2 linked regions of the Homo sapiens genome follow. The protein of the gene in region 1 binds, or shares a complex with, the protein of each later gene. Each region holds a gene or a part of one and is shown on either strand. Other genes may lie near its edges.

The links.
Region 2: the proteins of TXN (region 1) and NFKB1 are in contact, whole or in part, in an NMR structure (PDB 1MDI), measured with the Homo sapiens proteins. Residues at the interface, in NP_003320.2 of Homo sapiens: Thr30, Trp31, Cys32, Pro34, Met37, Ile38, Asp58, Val59, Asp60, Asp61, Gln63, Ala66, Ser67, Val71, Lys72, Pro75, Ser90, Gly91, Ala92; in NP_001158884.1 of Homo sapiens: Arg56, Phe57, Arg58, Tyr59, Val60, Cys61, Glu62, Gly63, Pro64.

What each region holds. Positions count from the first base shown.
Region 1 is NC_000009.12:110,251,903-110,262,932, forward strand, and holds the start of TXN (thioredoxin), read right to left. Parts: upstream 4,606-11,030; 5' UTR 4,534-4,605; coding exon 4,510-4,533; intron 1-4,509. UniProt on the Homo sapiens protein: Participates in various redox reactions through the reversible oxidation of its active center dithiol to a disulfide and catalyzes dithiol-disulfide exchange reactions.
Region 2 is NC_000004.12:102,495,189-102,506,189, reverse strand, and holds the start of NFKB1 (nuclear factor NF-kappa-B p105 subunit), read right to left. Parts: upstream 4,832-11,001; 5' UTR 4,402-4,831; intron 4,257-4,401; exon of another isoform or gene 4,018-4,256; intron 3,752-4,017; exon of another isoform or gene 3,704-3,751; intron 1-3,703.

The sequences.
Region 1 (11,030 bases):
TTTGCAATTGAAACATCACAAGTTACTTAAAGATAAAAGTTGGCTGGGCATGGTGGCTCACACCTGTAATCTCAGCACTTTGGGAGGCCGAGGTGGGCGGATCACTAGGTCAGGAGTTCGAGACCAGCCTGGCCAATATGGTGAAATGCTGTCTCTACTAAAAATACAGAAACTAGCTGGGCGTGGTGGCATATGCCTGTAGTCCCAGCCACTCAGGAGGCTGAGGCAGGAGAATAGCTTGAACTCAGGAGGCGGAGGTTGCAGTGAGCCAAAATTGTGCCACTGCACTCCATCCTGGGCAATAGACGGAGACTCTGTCGCAAAAAAAAAAAAAAAAAAAAAAGCTATGACTTTTGATTAAACTCATTTGTCTATGGTGGACCATACGAAAATCTAAAATTTTTTGAAAAGTCAAGGAAACTCACCTTTCCCAAACCTCAACACTCAGACATCACCGTTGACATAAGCATAATGGGGTTTCCAGAGCTGAGATCACACGTTTACCAACCTTTGATTTTTGCCCTTTATTTTAAAACTATACCCTTGTCATTCATTAAATGAAAGTTTTCGTTCCTCATGAAGGAAATTTTTCATAGATATTATTTTTCATAAGGAATGCTTGTTAAATAAAATTCTCAGTAGAAATGATCAAGAAATCTCTTACCACTAACTTCCCTGAATTATTTACTATCTAGATACTGTAACCCTGGGAACCGAATATTCTAGTTACCAAGGACTCATTTTTGTTTTGTTTTGTTTTTGAGACGGAGTTTCACTTGTTGCCCAGGCTGGAGTGCAAAGGCCTGATCTCGGCTCACAGTAACCTTTGCCTCCGGGGTTCAAGTGATTCTCTTGCCTCAGCCTCCTGAGTAGCTGGGATTACAAGCCTCTGCCACCAGTCCCAGCTAATTTTTGTATTTTTAGTAGAGACAGAGTTTCGCCATGTTGACCAGGCTGGTCTTGAACTCCTGACCTGAAGTGATCCACCCGCCTTGGCCTCCCAAAACAAAGGACTCATTTTAACCACATTAGTACGTTAGTGCTGACCAAACCCAAAAACCAAACCAGAGCAATTAAGATAAATCAAAACATAAACATCTGTATCTGAAATCTAGGTTTTCTTCAAGGAAACAATGCTGGTCAAATAGGTTTAAAAAAAAATGAACATTCCCCGCCCCCCACCGCCACAAGAGGTCTCGTAAAGAAAGAAATCAAATAAATAAAAAACCATAAGATAAAAAACCAAATAAACAAAAAAAAACCCAACAAGAAAACACTAATATGACCTCATGTACTAATAGTTACTTCTCTAGATTTCTAATTTCTACCTCGTTTTTGGGAAAATAATTCACAAATGGTGTTCCTGAGAAAGGTAGGACAACACTTTCATAAATTTTTTAGTTATGCAAATCCCTGAACCCCACCTCTAGAGGTGGAGACATGGGGAGAGCTGCAGCAGGGTACATAGAAGTATAGCAATTGTTTTTCCAAATCATCACTTATTGTTCCAGATCAATTTCATTCAAAGCCTTCCCTAATGTGATTTTCAAGAAAGTTAAACCAGGCATCCTTTATTGCAAGATCCAGGTAAGACAGGAAAAAAGGTCAAGAAATGCCAATGTCTGGTTGAATAGACATTTTTGTTTTTTTAACATGATTAACCCTTATTAAAAACTTGAGATTACTTTCAAGAGGGAAGGTATTTCAAACATACTCAAGGCTTTTCCAAAACAGTTCTGAATCAAATTTAAGCACAAGTACCTAAAATTCTGAAAAGAGGCACGCAACAATAACTTTTAGCCTAACTGAACATGAGTTACACCCCACGTATGTGCAGGCTTCATGTACAAATTCTCTTCTGATACTTCTAAACGGGTATCAGCTTGAAAATTATTCAAGATTGTATTACTAAGAAGAAATCACAATTTCTAGCTCCCAGAAACTAACAGGATTAATAAATGTCTCCATCACTGACACCAATAATCTGGGGGAAGCAGAACAGTGTAGTTGGGGTAAATAGGAGCAAGAGTCTAAGATCTCGTTGCCTCAACATACCTACTCTGAGGGTAATAAGTGTGAGTGGTTTCTGAAGTACTTAGCCAAGTGCCTTGTAGATGGGAGTTCAATAAATGGTAGGTGTCATTTTTTTTAAAAGTGTTTATTTCTTCCTCATCACATTTACAGTCAATTATTCCATTCCTCTCTGAAATAGATCCCAGTTGGCCCTAAAGCACCAACAGAGTACCTCAGAAACAGAATTGTTCTGAATGGCAAATGGTGCAAATTTAGCCCATTAGGATGAAAATGTAACATGTATTCAACATTTACAAATAACAGGCTGGGCGTGGTGGTTCACGCCTGTAATCCTAGCACTTTGGGAGCCTGAGGTTGGTGGATCACCTGAAGTCAGGAGTTCGAGACAAACCTGACCAACATGGTGAAACCCCATCTCTACTAAAAATACAAAATTACTGGGCATTTTGGCAGCGCATGCCTGTAATCCCAGCTGTGCAGGAGGCTGAGGCAAGAGAATCGCTTGAACTCAGGAGGTGGAGGTTGCAGTGGGCCGAGATCGCGCCACTGTACTCCAGCCAGGGCAACAAGGGCAAAACTCCATCTCGAAAAACAAACTAACAGACAAATAACAATCAAATTAGTGTAACTTTCGATCAATGACTTTGGATTGTTATTTTGAGGATTAATTGATTATCAGGGCCTTTGGGCCCCAGGCTGTAGTGCTTTTTTTAAAGTTCCTGTCACCCTTGTACACCTTTGTCACTGGTAGAGGAGGAAGGTGCTCTGACATGCTCTGACAACTGGGAGGACTAAACTGTGTGCTCCAGAAATCCTAATCAACTTTGTTTGTAGTGTCTGGATTTTGGGACAACTAACATAGACCACTCAAAGGTCTTCTGGCTCAGTGGAGGGGGTTCTTAGCAGTTGGGTTATACTGAGGTTGCCAGACCCTGGAGAACAGAATCCCAGCCCCACTCCCTTCCCCAGGAATGGATTAATAATTTGTCACACAATAGGTGCTTGGAAAAAAAGTATATGAAAGACAATTCACTACTAAGGATCTTTTCAACACATGAGGGCTGCTAAAATGAGAATCCCACTAAGAAAAAACTGATTGAGAGGAAGATAAAAGATGACAGTGGCAATCAACATATGAGGAAAAAACACTGAGAGTCAATAATAATCAAAGGAACAAAAGGATCGGGGACACATTGCAGACACACTTCTGTTTCCGAAGCCCACCCGGCACCAAACAGGTCAGGGCACCCGAGGCGGGCGAGGACCCGCCCTCCTCTGCTTCCCGCAGGTAGGGAGGGGTAATCGCAGGGTAGGCGCTGGCGAGGGGTCTTCTACCGTTCGAGCAGTATCAATTTCCTCCACTCACTTTTCTGACGCTGCATTTAACAAATATTTCTGGAGTGGCTACATTGGACTAGACACTGCGCGTTAGGCTCTGGGTTTCCCAGTCTACAAGGTTTTAGGCTTGCAATAACTTTCAAACATGGGAAGGCTGTTTCGCCTTGGGCATTTTTAAGAGGACAAAACAACGATCGGGATACCGATAGGTCGGCGAGCAGGCAGCAGGGCGCGGCTGCTCCCAGGAGGAACCCTGGCTCCAGCAAAACCCACCGACTGAGGGTGAATCATGGACGGGCAGGGCAGCCGAGGCCCCCGGGCCCAACCTTGGGGACTCAGTCATTCCAAAGCCACTGCTGCCGGAAACGCGCCCTGCGCCACAGGAGTCCCGTGGGCGCGGCCCGGACCTCACTTCCTCGCGGTCACCTGGGGCCCTCGGGCCTCCTGGACAGACCTGCACGTGCCAGGGGGTCTCCAGCCGCAATCCGCCCCCTTAGTGCGGATACAGCACGCGTCACCTTTGGGGTCGGGCATGGGTGGAGGCAGGCGGGGGTCTCCGGCCTAGACCCGCTCCCAAAGGGAGATCACTACCCCCGCTGCGGGTGGATCACTTCACATACGGAAAGGCAGCGGCGGCCACCGACCCGTGCCTTCTGCAAGGGCCCTCCCTATCCTTGCCTGGGGCCTGAATCTGGATACAGATGGGGGGCCAAGGGCGGACCCCTTCCATTCCCTCATCTTCCTCCAGTCGGGGCTGCCCGGACGGGAGGGTGCAGGAGGCGCAGCGTGGGGACTCCTCACGCTGTCTGCGCTCTCACATCCCCCGGACGCTCCCCGCGTGCGTGCAATCCCCCGAGGAACAGGGTGCGAGAAACGCTGGGCACCGCCACTCCGCCCTCCAGGGGACCCTCGTCCTTCTCCTCCCTTCCTCCAGGGCAGGCTCCACCGCCTCGGGCGCGCCCAGGCCGCTGCTTCCCGCAGTCCCAGGCCGAGACGCCGCGTCCCTTTCCCCTGGCGATGCGGAGGGGCGGCCTCCGCACCTCCCGCCACCGCCTTCCCCACCTCCCGCCACCGCCTTCCCCAGTTACAGAGGCCGCGCGCGGCGCCGGCACCCTGGCCTTCCCCGGTAGCGCGTACCTTGCTCTCGATCTGCTTCACCATCTTGGCTGCTGGAGTCTGACGAGCGGCTGTAAGGACCGATGGAAATGGATCCAAAGCACCAAACAGAGCTTCAAGACTCGCTGCTTGCTCTCTCCCTTTATAAACTGGCACGCCCGGCGTGCGTGTGGCGGGGGCGCGCGCGCCCGGCCGGACCTCCGCGCCCGTCGCTGCGCCCCGGCCACGCCCCGCCCCTGGAGCCTGCGAGCCGGGATCGGGGCGGGGCTGGCGCAAGCGTGGGGCGGAGCTCCAGGGCTTCGGCTCCTGTAACCCCAAGCCCAGCTCGCACTCCAGCTGGAAGTGGGGATCAGCACTGCGCGTGACGGTGGGAGGCGGGGAGACGGACAGTCACCCCCAGAGACACAAGGTCCCTCCCGGGTCACCTGGGGATGCGTCCGCCGGGCCTGAATCGAACACGCCCACGCTCGAGATGGGGACCGCCCAGGCAGGGCTGGATTCCTCGAAAAGGGCCGCCACGCCCCGGCCCCCCCAGCCACGTGAACCCCACAAAGTGCTGAGTAACGGTGACCGGGAAGTATCTCGGTGTGTACGTCCTTGCCTCCTCTCCGGAATTTACCGTGACCGTTCTCTTCTCTGTAACCTCCTTCTGTTCTTTCATTTTCACTGCTGAGCCCGCTGCTCCAGCTTGACACAGCGGTTTAGTGCGGTAGAAACGACCGGGGGACTGGTTGGGCTCTTGACCATCAGACAGCTGCGTGTGAGATGGAAGTGCCACTGGGTTGAGCTCTGCAACTTAGTTACGCAGTTGTGACCCTGGAAAGGTCCTGACCTCCTGAAGTCTCAGTGTTTCCTTCTGTAGAACGGGAATCATGATGGTCTCAATCTCACGGTGGTGGTATTTTGAGGGTTAATAGTGCTTGCAAAGGACGGTGCTTGGCACATAGTAAACACTCCATAGATAGTTCTTACTGTTCGGTGTCTTGCAGGGACTGATTGGGCCTGGCCACCTTATACAGCATTTACAATGGCACAGCACGCACACTTGTGTGAGATTCTTCTAACAGAGGCAGACTCCTGGAACAGAAGTCGGAGTTTGCATTGATCCAGGAATGCCTGTTGCAGGTTATGTCTGGCAGGGCTGGGGATTGTGGAAGGTGGGTATGTTAGCTGGCCTTGTGGAGCCAGGAGGGCCTGTCAGCGGCTGGAAGTGGAGGTTGAAAAGCTGCTCACAGGAACGAGAGCTAGAAGGCTGGGAGGGAGAGTCCCAGGTCTGTGTTTTCAGAGCTGAGCTGTTCCCGATGAAGCTGCAACTAGGTGTGATTGCCTAGGGGTGGTGATACTGCTGCCTGGCTGCCCCCTGAAATCCCTGGCTTCCTTCTTTCACTCTTTCAGACAGAGGAAGGGAGGAAACCAGAGGTTTTGAATCTATTGTGCAAAGTTTCTAGGGGGCTGAGGAGCACGGAGCATGAATATGGATATAGGCAAGGGACACATTCTAAAGACAGCCCATAGGGAGGGAAGACAGACTGCCCTGAATGCAGCAATGTTCCCAAAGAGAGGGAGGTTATTGGGGCAGAGAGGAAGGAGCTGTATGGAGCACCCAGAGCAGAATCTATAACCTGCTTTTCTGCTGCTGGGTTTTCAGTTCAGCTGCATCCCAGCTTCCTGACTTTTATCTGTTTGTTGGTGAATTTGCATGGGTGATAACAACAAATCATTGAGTTCCAGGAAGGGGCAATGCAGGCCATCCTCAGCTGACTTCTCTCCAAAGACCTTCCAAATGTCCAGTGACTCAGTGAAGGAGGTACTCCCTCTCTCCCACCTCCACAGCACCAATGCAGAGTAGATGTGGAGGATGGTACAGTTATAAGGAACTGGGAGGCCAGTCTGGACTCTGCAATTTGACTCCGTTGTCCTCATCCCTACTCTACCACTTCATGACTGGGTAACTCTAGGCAAGTCTAAATAGCCTTTTTGTGCCTCAGTTTCCTTATGTGAGAAGTGGGCGTAATAATAGCTTGTGCTATTATAAGGGTTGAGTGAACTAAAATATATGTAAAATGCTTAGAACCGTGCCTGGTGTGTAGTGAATGCTACATGAACTATGATTATAGGCTATTAAATGAATGATGAGATCCATCTGGAATGATGGCAGAGCTAGGGTGGAAGGAGAGATTATAAAACAGGTGTCAGTCTTAAATGAATTAAGTAATGAAGACAGTAGTAATGAACAGTGAGCTCCGTAACATAAGCCTCAAAGGAAAAGGCCTTTTTTTTCCCTGCAAGGAAGAAAGAAAAGTGGGCTGCACCTGGTCCCAAGGAGCAGGTTCCCTGCATTTGTGGCAAGGAGGTGACGTTCTTTGAGGAGAGTGAGGTACAGGGGAATTATTTGGGACTGCCCAGAGAGGAAGCGTTCATTTGTGCAGAGAAATGTAGAGGCTCTGTGTGTTAGTCAGAATTTTCAGTTGCAAGGAGAAATTCTAGCTCAAACTGACGTAAAGCAAAAAGAGAATTAGTAACTCAGATTAGCAAGAACCCCAGGGGCCTAATGATGTCAAAGGGCACCATCTCTCTTAGTTTCATTCTCAAGTAGGCACTCTATGTAAGAGTGGAGTAGGCAGCTCCAGACTTAGGTTCTTACTAGTTTAGTATCTCTACAGGAAGAGTGTTCCTCTTCCTTGTTCTTATAAATGTCTGAGAGGCTGACCTTCACTTTCATGGTGGGGAAAGGGATTAGCCTTGCTTGAAGCTTTGCACTAAGAGTAGGGAAAATCCAGGGGGTTACCAGAAAAGGGGAGATTGCTGCCGGACCAGCAAAAATGATATTTTTATGTCACCCAGAAGGGCGGAAACATGTAACAAGGGTGATGGGCCTGCTTCAGGCCTGGGTCAGCTGAGTCCAGCCTCCACATGGGACTGGAGAACTGGGTCAGCTGTCTTTGTTTGGGTCTCAACTCGAATTTGAAGAAAATGTAATTGTAGGATTTCTGAAACAAGTTTTTCTCACATCCCACGTGTCTCTGAGTGGTTCTTGACCACCTAATTCATCATAGCCAAAGGTGCTCGATGATACTGCACATTCCTGGACCACACCCAGACAGACATACAGAATCAGTCTTTTGAGGTAAGGCTTTGTAATCTGCATTTTTAAAAAGCATCTCAGGTGATTGGGTACACTAAGATTTGATGAGCTTTGCCATGGGACCTTCAGAGGGAGGCCAGCATTAGTTAAGCTTCAAGACTGTGTCTAGCAAGAGAGTTGAGATGGGAACTCAAAAGAGAATGTGGTAAGTGACATAAAATCAGGAGCTCGAAGTACTACAGTAAAAAAAGTGGTAGAAGGAAAAGGAACAAATTAACCTGGGTGGGACAGTCATTAAATGCCAAGCCTAGAGTTGGGCGTGTCTTATCATTCCTCTCAATATCCCTTAGAAGATAGACATTATTTTTCCTATTTTACAGAGAAAGAAATTGAGATTCAAAGAGGTCACCTAGTCATATCCAATGTTCACTAATTCTTATACTCTGTCCATGAAGGGTGGGAAGTATCAGCACAGTTCTCAAGCCCATCTGCATATATTAAGTACTCCTCATTTCACCAGTGAAAAATATCTGACATCCCTTATGCTAATGTGCCGTATATTACAACACATCAAATCTTAACTATTTAGATTGTAAAAACTAATTTACGCATAACTATATCACACTTTAATTGCCAAGTATTTTAATGTAAATTTCAGATAATATAATAACCCCTGTGAGTAACCTACCCTGCACATCACTGCTCCTTATAGCCCTTAATTTGGTCCAGTGGTCACCCTTGCTGCCCGCTTGAGCCCTTTCACCATGTAGCATGGAATCATCTGGATTCAGCAAGCACCACTGTATTCCCAGATGTTTCTTTTTGCTTTAACCGAAAGTTTTGCCCATCTCAGTGTATATCATTGCATGACATACAATGCTCCATGTATGTCACAGCCAGGCGGTAAGGCAAGTGCTTCCCTTTGCTGCATCCAGATTCTTTCTCCTTCCAAAATCCCAGATTTTTAGAAAGAAAAAAAAAATTTTTTTTTGAAAGAAAAAGGAACTTGACCTTTACAGCATGCCATAAAATTACTTAGAATTTACCAAGGAACTCCTGGAAGAAGACATTAGAGATAATCTTTGCAACCTTGAGGTAGGCAAATATTTCTTAGGCAGAACACAGAAATCACTAGCTATAAATGAAAAAGTTAATAAATTTGGCTTCTCACAACACACATACACAAATATGTGAGGTGATGCATATGTTAATTAGCTTGATTTAGCCATTCTACATTGTATACCTATATCAAAATATGTTGTACACCATCAATGTATACAAGTTTCACTTGTCAATTAAAAAATAATTTTTTAAAAATGGGGGAAGCTAGCAGTCTTGCATCCCCTGTGAAGGGATGTATGTTCTAGTGGGTGGATTTTACTTGATATTAAGTATTGTTATAAGTAGTTAGATAGGCATGAGTGAGGCAGGAGAGGGCTCTCTACCCACCCACTAGGAATGTCAGGTGATGGTTGGACAATTATCACACCACCACTCTAAAAACGATAATGTGGCAGCCTAACCAGGGTGCCAGGGAGAGGCCATTTCCTGGTGATCCACAGCTGTTAACATTAAAGCGTTAAATGAATCCAGATGCCCGGGAGAAGAAACTGCCTGGGCATGTGCACTAAGAGACAAAATGGCAAAATAAGACATTCCAGGCAGGCTCTTCCAGAAAAAGGGAAGAAAGTCTCAGATAGGCATGCATATGACTTCCTAAACACGCTGTGTGTGCTCAATTCCCAAGGGTAAGGGGGCAGGCACTAGGCAGGCAGCCCACCCTGAGGGAAGAATCATGGGAAAGAGGTAAGCCTATAAAATCCTGAGATGAAGTCGAATTCTTCTGAGGAGGCAAGGACGAAGTTGCTGCAGATGTGTACAGATCGCCGCTAATAATTCAGGGTAACTTGGATCTCTTCCACTGGTAACAGAATCATCTCAAGAAAATAAAAATAAATAGAATAAATTATAAAAACTAAAAATCTCTGCTCTTTGAAAACCATTGCTTAAAAATAAATGAAAATGAATAAATAAATTTCTCCCAGTCTGTGACTGGAAGAAAGTATGCTCAATACATACTTCTAACAAAGGACCTACATTCAGAATATATAGGGATCTGTTACAGCTCAATAATGGGAAGACAAATAAGCAGTAAAAACATGGCAATAGATTTGAACACATACTTCTTAAAAGAAGATATATATCAAGAGGCTGAGGCAGGAGAATCGCTTGAATGCAGGAGGCGGAGGTTGCAGTGAGCCGAGATGGTGCCACTGCACTCCAGCCTGGGACGTTTTCTCAAAAGAAAGAGAAGATATATAAATGACCAGTAAGCACATAAACAGATGGATTGCTCAACATCATTCGTCACCAGTGCAATTCAAATTAAAACCATAATAAGATACCACTATGTGACCTCTAGGCTGGTAAAATTAAAACAAAACAAAACACACATACACAGACACTACCACATGCTGGCAAGATTGTGGACTAATTGGAAATAATTCATACTTCACTGGTAGGATTATAAAATTGTACACCCACTTTGAAAAACAGTTTGGCAAGTTTTGTTTTTTGTTTTTGTTTTTAATGAAGTTACACACACATTTACCATATGACCTAGTAATTCCACTTCTAGGCATTTACCCTCCAAAAATTAAAACACATGTATATAAGGACTTGCATATGAATGTTGGGAGCAGCTTTATTCATGATAGCTCTAAACTAAAAACAACCCAAATGTTCACCAACAGGTGAAATAATAATAAATGTGATATGTCCATACAATAGAATACTTCTCAGCAACAAAAAGGAACAAAATGCTTATATACACAAAAACATGAGTAAATATAAAAAGCACCACTGAGTGGAAGAAGCCAGACACTAAAGATTGTATTAACTCATTCCTATGAAGTTCTAGAATAGGTAAGTCTATAGTGACAGAAAGTAAATCAATGGTTTCTTGGTGTTGGGGTGGGAGGATTGCAGTAAGGCACGGGAAACTTTTTGGTGATTACATAGGTCCGTACATTTTCTACACCTCATGGAAAAATGCACTAAAAAGAGGTACATTTTATTATGGATACAAATAATACCCTCAATAAAGTTTATTTAAACTGTAAAACATGTGGTCTTTGAATAATCCTGTCTAGGCACAAAAACCATCTGTAAAGACATTAAAATACATAAAAACATAAAAATATGTAAGGGAACAAAGATAAGTTGAAACATTTCAGCAGAGCTCTAACTTGGGCCACAAAAATTCTAAGCATGGCTAAGTGAAAGTGCATGCAAAAGTTGATAAGCCTTTTATAGCAATGGTAGCCTTCAAATAAGATACAGATATTAAGCATAGACAAGTTAATTGGGTAATCTACCAAACTTACCTTAAATGCTGAGACGTGGAGAACCACTGAGGGAAGCATACAAGTAAAAAGAGCTTGTTGTCCTCTTTACA
Region 2 (11,001 bases), on another chromosome or scaffold:
ATTTTACAAGCACCTTTTATCATTCCAATTACTTTATAATCTTGCTCTGGTGCCTCTAAAACTTTGAAACTAAAAGGCATTTTTTTTCTAGTTCATAAATGCCTCTTTCAGAATGAAATGTTCCCCTTTTGGAAGGCGCCAGATACTTTTTAATAAATTATTTGTTCTAGTAAACTTCAAGTGGTCTTTAGATAAGATTTCCATAATATCTAAGACACAAGGACTATTTTGTGCTCCTTTCTTTCCAGAAGGCAAAGCAAAATAATGTAATTTTTGTTCCTTATAGAAGATGGCTGTCCATTTAAAAAAAAATTTTGCAACAACTTCATATCATTCATTCATTTAACAGTTAATGATTGCTTACTATGTACCAACAAGTACAATGCTAAGCATCAGATATTTCTTTCGTCAGTATTGATTAGATATTATTTATTTTTAGTTAAACTAGAGTATTTGATTCTCTCAAACAGCTTTTTCTTTATTTCATTTTTTATAATTTTGGCTATTTTAAAGAATAAATTCTTTTCTAAAGCTTAAGCAGTCAAAATTTGTCACAGTTTAAACTAATAGGATCCATAGATGAACTCAAGTCTGTTGATATCTACTGAAGGCATGGGTCAAAATAAAAGCTATTTTAAGGTTTCTGGATTAATGGTGAAAGATGAATGAAAAATAATAAGGCAATTTGTAATGGATAATTAAACCAAATATATCATTATTCTAATTTCAAAAACAGGCAATAAATTAAAGCAGATGAAATTTGTATTACTGATAATTAATTCTGTTTGTTACTACAGAAAATATGACACAATAAAAATTGTTTTCTTTTTAAAATGTAAAATGCACTATTTTTATTATTAGTACTCTAAATTAAACAAATATTTTCATCCATAATCTATCTTCTGAGATTTCTATAATCTTTAACAAATCACATCTTATGTGACTCTTATTCTGTACAGAACTGTCAGGCTTTAAATTATTTGAGGTGTAGCAATGCAATTTGCACAACTTATTTTCTAAACTGTTGGCTGATCTTCAAGGCCAGGTCAACAACCTCCGGAAATGTAAAAGACAGTATATTAATTTGCACCCAGGAACAACCCCTAATACAGCAGAGACCAAAGGTATGAAGCAATTTCATCATCATTAAAAGAATGTTACTACTTTTTTCTCTTTTTTTCTTCTAAAAGTGAGGCACTGGATACTAATTAATGAAATACTACAAAGATAAAAGGCTTGGTTATGTTACCAGAACTATTAACTGTCCAAATTATGTGGTTTCAAATATTAATCTTTTTTGATTAAAAAAATTCACAGTCAAGGAGCCAAACTGACTTGCAGGACTATGCCAAAACGTTCAAACCTTTCTCCCTGAGGCTGAGTACCTTCAGTTCTTCCAAACTGTCTGTCTCCAAAGTAGTGACAAAATTCAAAGAGAGATCATATGCTCTTGATGGTTTATTGCTGACCTCTAAGAACACTACAAGTGAGTTCAGTATTTATGGGAGGTGCAAGAGTGCAAATGAGAACTAATTCCCAAAAAGCAGAGTAAATTGCTCCAGTATGGTCTACTGTTTACCAAGACGTAGTCATCAATTAATGCTGATTAGACACAAATGTAGATGTAGGAGCAGAACATCTTAACATATCCTCTAGCACTAACTTCTATTTTTCCTTCTCCTTCTCTTCTAATATAACAATCCCACTACTGTAGACAATTCACCTTGTAAACAGAAAACCAACAGACCAACCGAATAAAACAAACTTCCTACTAAAAGTAAGAAAATTAATGAGAAATTTTGCATAGACATCCATTCCTGTTAATGTGATTTCTGATCAATCTGTGGACCAGAAGAGCATAATCTGAGAATTTACTCTATTGGTTATACAACAGTACTGTGCATTTCCAGATACACTTCCTACTGCAGTCAATTCTATACTCAGAATAGCACATCTACTAAGACCCGAAGATGCAAAAGATGACATTTTGAGTACTTCATCAAAAATCCATACAGCAACTCAGATACAATTATTTTACTGTTTGAAAATATCGACTACTTTTCTTACTTCTCCCAAGTTCAAACCAATTGAAGGTTATGAAGTAACCACTTCCCCCCAGAAGCCAGAACTTTCACCTCTTCTGAACAGAGAAATACCTCTCATAAATTAGGTAAAAATAAGGTCTTGCTGATGGAATGATAGTCCAACATTCATGTAGCTGCCAATTCCCTATCTAGACCTCGTATCTACCACAATGAGCAATCCCTGAAAGTCAAGGTAGTAACTTACTTAATCAATTATCTGCAAGTCTAAAAGTGTAGTTAAAACAACCTGCATAAATATTAGTTTCTCAAACTACTTCAATTTGTTTCCAGGAACAGTAACAACAGAAATGTAAGGAATATAATCACTAAATCTAAAATTCTGCCTATTTCAGATTAATTGTGCTTTAATCAACTCAATCAACACAGATCTTGTTTAAGAGGTAGAGTAAAAAGGAAGTGCAAAGATCAAAGCAATGCTTACAAAGGGGAAGGACTATTTTTGTATGTATACCCCCAGTATTTACTATCTGGGTTTGAAAAACACGGGCATTTACTCAGCACAAGTGAGTGCCAATGCCTAACATAAGAATGAAATTTCAGCAAAAAGATAATAGATTTTCACATCACCACCAACCCCTAAAAGGATTATACTACCTTCTTTAAAAAGTCTCAAAGAGTTTAGAAGTGGTTTGCTTTTCACTGCAAGCAGCTTTTCGGTTCCAGTATTAAATGTACATATAACGTGTGTTCCTTTGTGTTCAAGTTTGTCCAGTAGGCTGCAGCCCAGGAAGACATTTTATCTAAACAAGCAGGGGAGGGCATTTAGGAATTGCAGGTGTATCAATATGGATGAATAATCTCAGATTCCAAGTCTCCATTAATCGTACATGTTCTTTCCATTTTAGCAATTCAATTAAATCATGAATGTAAAATTCTACAGGAAACAAATCTTTTTATTTCCTGTCTTCCCAAGTTTATAAACTCAAAAAAGTACATTGCTTCAAATTTAAATACATACATTTAAATACATAATTCCTATAGTGCCTCAAACAGTAAAAGGATTCATCTCTAGAAAGCACAATATTAAAATCAGAAAAACAACATACTTTAGTTTTAAGTTTCCCTTTTAAAGTTTTAACAAACACGAATGCAGTTTAAACTGCTTGACAATATTCAGTTGTGGGATTCTGCTAGAAAAAAATTATTGAATATCTTGACCCTAACCTTTACTATTTACTAAAAGATCACCAGTATGTAGAATATTTTGATGCCAGAGCTATTAAATGTTTTAGTAATACCATAAGCATTTTTTCAGATTATGAGCTTTATAAAAAAATCTTTGAGTTAAATATGGTTATTTCATAAACTGTAATGCTGAAAACCTCTACTTAACAAAGTCCATGAACATGTCAATCTTGATAATTAAATCCTGTATCATTAAGTCCCATTTGAGTTTCAGGATAAACCAGCAAGTCAGGGCAAACATTCCCTGGTGTCTGTTTTTAAGGACCATAGAAAAACTTGCATTTAGGATAGGCCTTGTTTTTACATTATTTTTGTTTCAGCGGTCATGCATAATGCATGGTGGCACTGTCCAAGAGTTTTACATAATCAAGTCTAAAAAGTGCTCTAAGTATCCAGGTAGGTAATTTATTTTCTCTCTCAAATGCCAGGCCCCGGAGGATCAGAATCAAGTCCTATAGCAGGTGACTATATCGTGTGTGTGTGTGTGTGTGTGTGTGTGTGTGTGTGTGCGCGCGCGCGCGCGCACGGAGGGGGGGAGGGGGGAGAGAGAGAGAGACAGAGAGCGAGCCAGGTTTCTTTTAGAAGTAGGAGAGGGATGAATAGACTCTCCTATTCAATTCTGGGGAGCTGGGGAGGGCTTTCCCAGCCAAGAGGACTGACAAGCACTTCTGCTTTCATTTCATGGAACGCCCTTAGGTGAAATCTGGTTCTGCACTGCACCAACCACCTTCCCTCTCTCCTCCGCGCCGCAGCGCACTCCAACCTTCTCACCATCCCCCAGGTGGGGCTGGGGTTGGGGATTTTAAAAGTTTGTAAGAGTTCCCCTCCGGTTCGCGTTCCCGCCCCGCGGAGGGACGTGAAGAGAAATGACCGCCGGGCGGCCGCGGCCCTTCGGCCGACTAGCCCCTGCGAGGTCCGGATGTGTCTTTCCCCGCTGTCGCTAATCCCATGTGCCTCTCAGCTACTGTCAACCTCCTCCCACGGTCTAGCCCAGCGGTTAGCGCAGGAATGAGGAAGTCCGAGTGGGGCTGGAGGGGGTGCGGAGGGCTGGGCGGCAGGACTTGGGCCACGCGTCCCCTGCCGGGCCCCCACTCGCCCGAGTTTGGCTTACCCGGGTGGCGAGTCCGCGTTCGGCCTCCTGGCGCGGGTGGGCTCTCCCTCCTAAGCGGCGCGGGCCTGCCGGCTGGAGAAGGAAGAGGCGGCGGCAGGCCGGAGCCCGGGCGGGCCCGAGTGCGGGTCGGGGCGAGCGGGAGCGCGGCGGGGCCGGGCCAGGCCAGTCAGCGCCGCGCCATGGCCGCAGCGCGGGCGGAGGGAAGCGCAGGGCGCGCGGTGGCCGGGCGGCGGCGCCGCCTTACTGGCCGGGCGGCTGCGGCCTCGGCGGCGCTGGGCTCCGGGAGCGGGGCCGGTGGCTGCGTGCAGGCCGAGGGCTGCGGCGGCTGGCGGCCCGACCGACGGGAAGGGCAGGGGAAGCTGTCAGCGCGTCGCCGGGCCGCTCCGGTGGCGAAACCTCCTCTTCCTGCCCCGGCTCGCTGGTGCACTTCTCTCTCTTTCTGTCTCGCTCACTCTCTCACTTCCTGGCTGGAAATTCCCACTGACGTCGAGAGAGCATACAGACAGACGGACACACGCGCGCACGCAGCGGGGGCGGGAGGTAGGGTCGCTGCCGGGGGTGGGGGAAGCCCGCACTTCTAGGGGCGCTGTGCGCCCCCGGCCCGGCCTTGCCGCTCGCCTCGGCTCCCGCCCCTCGGGGCCGCTTCGGGGCGCCGGGCGAGGGGCGCGCGTTAGGCGGCCTGGACGCCGCGGCCCCTGCGGGGCTCTGGCTTCCTAGCAGGGCGCTCCCGAATCCCAAGGGCTGGAGCCGGTAGGGAAGCCCCCAGGAAGCGCCTGCCGGGCCCAATCAATGGTCGGGGAACGCAGGCAGCACGGAGGCGGCGGCGGTGGCAGTGCCGCTGATAGAGTCATGCGGTCCATAGCCCCTAAGGGCAGGCCCGAGCAGCTGGAGGGTCGGCATGGATCCAAGCATGCCAGATATAAAAATAAAGCTCATCTGTATATTCCATTTAAGCGTGTCTCAGTTACATTCACATCTCTTCACAGATTAAACTACAATTTCGTTATCATAAACGACTTGTGCCCAGTAAAGTATAACCCTCTACTGGTTTTTGGTGCGGTCTTAAATCTCCTGGTTATAGAGCAGTTACTCAGAATGTTCATCTACAAGGCATTGTTAGGCCTTTATGATAATTACTGTGGATAGAATTATAGTGATGGTGGTAGCAATGGTTTTGGTTCACAGCTCATAAAATACTGATCTGGCAGAGGGGAGTTTTCTTTTTCTCTGAAGAGACCGCTACTGGCACCCACTGACAGGCCTCCCAGTGGCCACCATTCACTGGCATCTGAGCTGCTTTAGTGCTGGGCACTGTATTAGGTACAGGCTGGGGATACCTTCGGGTGGATTACCTCCCCACATAAGAAAGCTTGAGCCGAAATATATATTTTAGAGCTCATTGTTTCACTACTGGGTGGAGTGACAACTGAAAGCTTAGCTTTAAAACATCAGTAATCAGGTCCTCACCAGGCAATATTGCAGTGGCATTTAGATTGCTTATGGCATGTTCATCCTAGTCCTTTCGTGCCCACTCTCCATCCTCCTCCTCCAGTAGGTTATAAAAACCTTCTTGGTGGAGTGTTTTTCTGGAAAAAAAAAATAAACAAAAAAAACCCACACACACAAAAACCCAGCGATCCATTTGATTGCCTATGAGGTGAGTCTCCGAGGCGACCTTGGAGGCCCCAACAGTCGACCTTTAAGTGATCTCATTTAGCTCCGGGAGGCTGAGCAGCTGGAATTTAGAGGATCCATAAAGACTGAACACAATGACTTTTTAAGAAATTCTGTGAGCCGGGTGCGGTGGCTCACACCTGTAATCCCAGCACTTTGGGAGGCCAAGGCGGGTGGATCCCCTGAGGTCAGGAGTTTGAGACCAGCCTGACCAATATGGTGAAACCCCATCTCTACTAACAATACAAAAAAATTAGCCGGGCGTGGTGGCGGGCGCCTGTAATCCCAGCTACTCCAGAGGCTGAGGCAGGAGAATCGCTTGAACCCTGGAGGCAGAGGTTGCAGTGAGCCAAGATTGCGCCACTGCACTCCAGCCTGGGCGAGACAGAGCGATACTCTGAGAAAGAAAGAAAGAGAGAGGGAGGGAGAGAGGGAGGGAGGGAGGGAGGTGTGAGCATACACACTCTACTTTTCATTCTGCAAGGGGTGGCAGCCCCATTACCAAAAGATAGATAAATACAATTGTTATAAGAGTAGAGCCAGTGTGACATATTTGGGAGTAAAAAATGAAGAGCGTTAATTACTGAAAAGGATTAAATCAAACTCCAAACTCAAAATGATTCCATAAAATGAACTTAAAATTCAGGGTAGGGTGTTGAGCAGGCATATTTTCCTGGGGCTGCTGTAAAAATTTACCACCGACTGAACAGCTTACAACGGGAATTTATTCTGTCACAGTCCTGGAGCCTAAAATTCTGAACTCAAGGTGCCATTAAGGCCATGATCCCTCTGAAGGCTCTAGGGAAGAATCCTTTGCCTCCTCCTAGCTTCTGGTAGCTCCAGCAATCCTTGCCATTCTTGGCTTGGCTGCAACACTCCATTCTGTGCCTACATTGTCACATGGTCTCCTTCCCCGTGTTTCCTTTGTGTCGCTATATTCAACTCTCCCTCACCTTTCTTTTATGAAGACACCAGTCATTGGATTTAGAGCCCACCCCAATCCAGTATTACCTCATCTTAACTTGATAACATTTGCAAAGATCCTAGTTCCAAATAAACTCATGTTCACAGGTACCTGTGGTTAGGACTTGAACATATGTTTTGGGGGGATGTAATTCCATGCAGCACAGCAGGCAAAACTATAAAAGCTTTTTGGCTTGCTGATTAACCCTCCTCCATTCCTGCTTTGTTACCCAACATTTTCTCTACACTGTACAAACCTGCTTCCAGGAATATCTCTTACAAATTCATCCATCCTAAGGTGTCAGAAGGTATTTGCCATTATCAGGCTACGAAGAGGAAAAAAATGCCTCAATGTGGAATTTCAGACATCAATATTGTCTAAAAGACAAGTTATTTTGTGTTTGTCACTTGTCTTAGTTCATTTGTGTTGCTATGGCAGAATACACAAGACTAGGTAGCTTATAATGAAAAGAGGTTTATTAGGCTCACAGTCTTCAGACTGTACAAGAAGCATGGCACCAGCATATGCGTCTGGTGAGGGCCTCAGGCTGCTTCCACTCAATGGAAGGCAAAGGCGGGTGGTGTGTGCAGAGAGATCGTATGGCGAGAGAGAGGGGAGAGATGCCAAACTTTTTAGCAACCAGCTCTCATAGGAACTAATGCAGTGAGAACTCACTCATCCTCTCCTCCTTGCAGGGAATAGCATCAATCTATTTGTGAGGGATCCACCTCCATGACCGAAACATCTCCCATTAGGCCCCACCTCCAAAATTGGGGTCACATTTCAACATGAGGTTTAGAGGAGACAAATACCCAAACCATAGCATCACTAAATCATTGAAACTACACAAATTTCCCTTCTCATGAAGCTATTTTGGAAATACCAGTGTGGAGAGAATTCTGAGGTTGAGATCTGTGTAGTGTGTTCATTGGCAATGAGAACATAGGAAAAGTATGTCTTCTTTTTAATTGCCTCTGAGTAAAGGTGACACAACACTTCTGCCCACATTCCATGGCCCCACTTAGATGCAAGAGAGCAGGGAACTACAGTTCTTCTGGTTGGTTAGGAGGTTGAAATAGGTCGGCTAAGCATATGGTTAATACCTGCTATACACGTATTCACTTATTTGGTTGTCAGTCATATAAAGTGGATCACCATTATAATCCCCATATTTACAGATGAAAAGTTGAATAATTTTCCTAAGGTTTCATAATTAGTAAATAGAAGGAGAGTCAGGATTTGAACCTAACAGATTTGGCTCCAGTGTGCATGATATTAACCACCACACTAAACTATTATCCAATGATATAAAAAGGAGCATGTAAGAGATTTTTAGAAGATGAGGTCAACAGGACCTGTTTATAGATTATATATGCAGTTTGAGTGAGAGGAAGACTCATAGATAGCTCTGAGTGTTCTAGTCTGAGTGATTAGAATAGTAACACTGTAACTGGGAAAAAATCTGTGGGAATGTAATGCATTCCCACATACCAAACATACATGTAACATGTAAACATACATATTTTAGACATGTTTAGTATGACAGATTTAGTGAGATGTCCATATGGAAATGACTAATAAATATGCAATTGAAAACTCAAGGCTGCTGCTCAGAGAGACATGGCGTTGGAAATGGAAACAACTGCAAAGATGCGATAGTTGTCAGGAGAGTGTTTCTAAAACATTAGTGGTCAAAGAGTTAGGAGACAAGGGGCTAAGTACAGGAATTCGAGGAATGACTTTATTTCTGGGGTTGGTATGAGAGAGAGATGCTTAAAAACTCCTGCAGTGCCATCAAAAGTGGGAGGAAAGCTCAGAAAGCCAGAGAAGAGAGAGTTTAAAGGGTATGAGAGCTCTCAACAGTGTCAGATACTGCAGACAGTTCCTAAAGGATGGAGAGGGGAAGAGACAGTTGACTTTGTGAATTATAAAATCCTAAGCCCGGCCTCGGGGCATGGCTGTGCAGCCAAGGGCAGAAACCAGTCTTTCTTCTGTTCACTCTGCTCGCTGTCTTGGAGGAAAAGGGAACTTTATTAACTCTCAAATAGCACTGATACGCAGTGGCTGTGGTCTTACATGACTTTTTCAGATGTGTTTCAATATAATGAGGAAAACCAAGAATGAGGAGACTGACAAGTGAGTGGGAAATGGGGAAACGAGGGCATAAGTGCAAAAGAATCTCACCAAGAGTTTGGAGTGAGAGGGAAGGAAAGAGGAGTTAGTGTGATTCTTCATTTATTTGACTAACACTTATGGAGTGCCAGAGTTAATGGAAGTTTGGAAAGGTGGAGAGATAGTTTAACGAGTTAATAGCGTTAATAACAGAAAGATTAATGAGGGAGCCGGAGCCAGAAGAAAGGAGACTGTGCGGAGCTCGTAATGTAGGTGAGGAGGCAGGAACAAATCTGCCTGTGTGAGATATGAGGAGGAAGAGTACAGAGAAGAGAGGCCCCAAGAAGAGGGGGAGGATTAGGCTATAATCATCAGCTGAAATACACTAAACCAAAAATGAGAATAAACCCTTAGAGAATGTGTTTGTTAGGGCTGCCAAAACAAAATATCTCAGACTGGGTGGCTTAAACAACAGAAATATTTTTTATCGTTCTAGAGACTGGAAGTTCAACAGCAATGTGTTGGCAGCATTGGTTTACTTGAGGGCTTCTCTCCTTGGCTTGCAGATGGCCATCTTCTCCCTGTCCTCATGTGGTTGTCCCTCTGTGTCCACGTCCAAATCATTTCGTCTTATAAGGACATCAGTCATATTAGATTAGGGCCCATCCCACTGTCCTCATTTTAACTTATATACCTCTTTAAAAACCCTATCTCAAAATCCAGTTACATTCTGAGGTACTGGGGGTTAGGACTTCAACATAGGAATTTCAGGGTGGGTGACATTATTCAGCCCATAACAGAGAGATATCTTTTAATGATTTCTATGAAGGCATGGAAATAGAGACTTAACTCATCCCGGTTGATCCAGGACTATCTTGCTTTTAGCACAGAGAGTCCCTTGCGCAGGAAACCCTCAGGCTCTAGTAAACCAGGGTGATTGGTCATGCTATATGAAGCCGACAAAACTGTTCTGAGTGAAATAAGGCTAGTTACTGGACATCATTGAGACAGCTGCCAATTACTTGTTTTTATGGAGGAGGTTTGCTTCTGTTTTCTGAAAGGTTGTATATCTGGCTGTCAAATCTATTCATAAGTGATGGTCTGACACTTATACATGCCTCTTTAATAAGATAAATATGGTTTTGCATATATATAACTCCTGATAAGCTTTTACAGAAATCTGAAAGAAATGTGAAATTATGTCATTTATTAATATATTGTTAATAAATACAAGTTATTAATATTAATATACTATATTTATTATATTAATAATGTTATATGATATTTACTTTATAACTATTGCAATATAAAATTAATATTTATATAATACCAATTATATAATTATTAATAATAATATAAAATAATAATTGTACACATCAATATATAATTATTGATTTATATATAAAGCTATATATAATTTATAAGTTATATAATTCTATATTATATAGAAGTCAATATATAATTTATTATATATTATAACTATTGTATATTATATATCATATACATTTATATATAATATATTGTTTATGTATAAATTATATGTTTAATAATATAATGATTATATTAACAATAACATTAATATATAATATTAATATTAATGTTTTTGTATATTAATATAATAAGCTTGGATTTTGGAAGCATGTTATATGGCTCCCTGGGTCTCAAGATTTGATGTTTCAACAGTTACATTCCTAGTCCATTATCTTTTGTAACATTTCCTCTCTTTCATTTTCCCTAGACTTGTTTTCTGGAATTTAAATTAGGTATATGTTAGATCTTCTCAATCTAATCTCTGTGTCTTTTAATATCTCTTATCTCTTTGGATTTCATTCTGGATAATTTCTTTATAT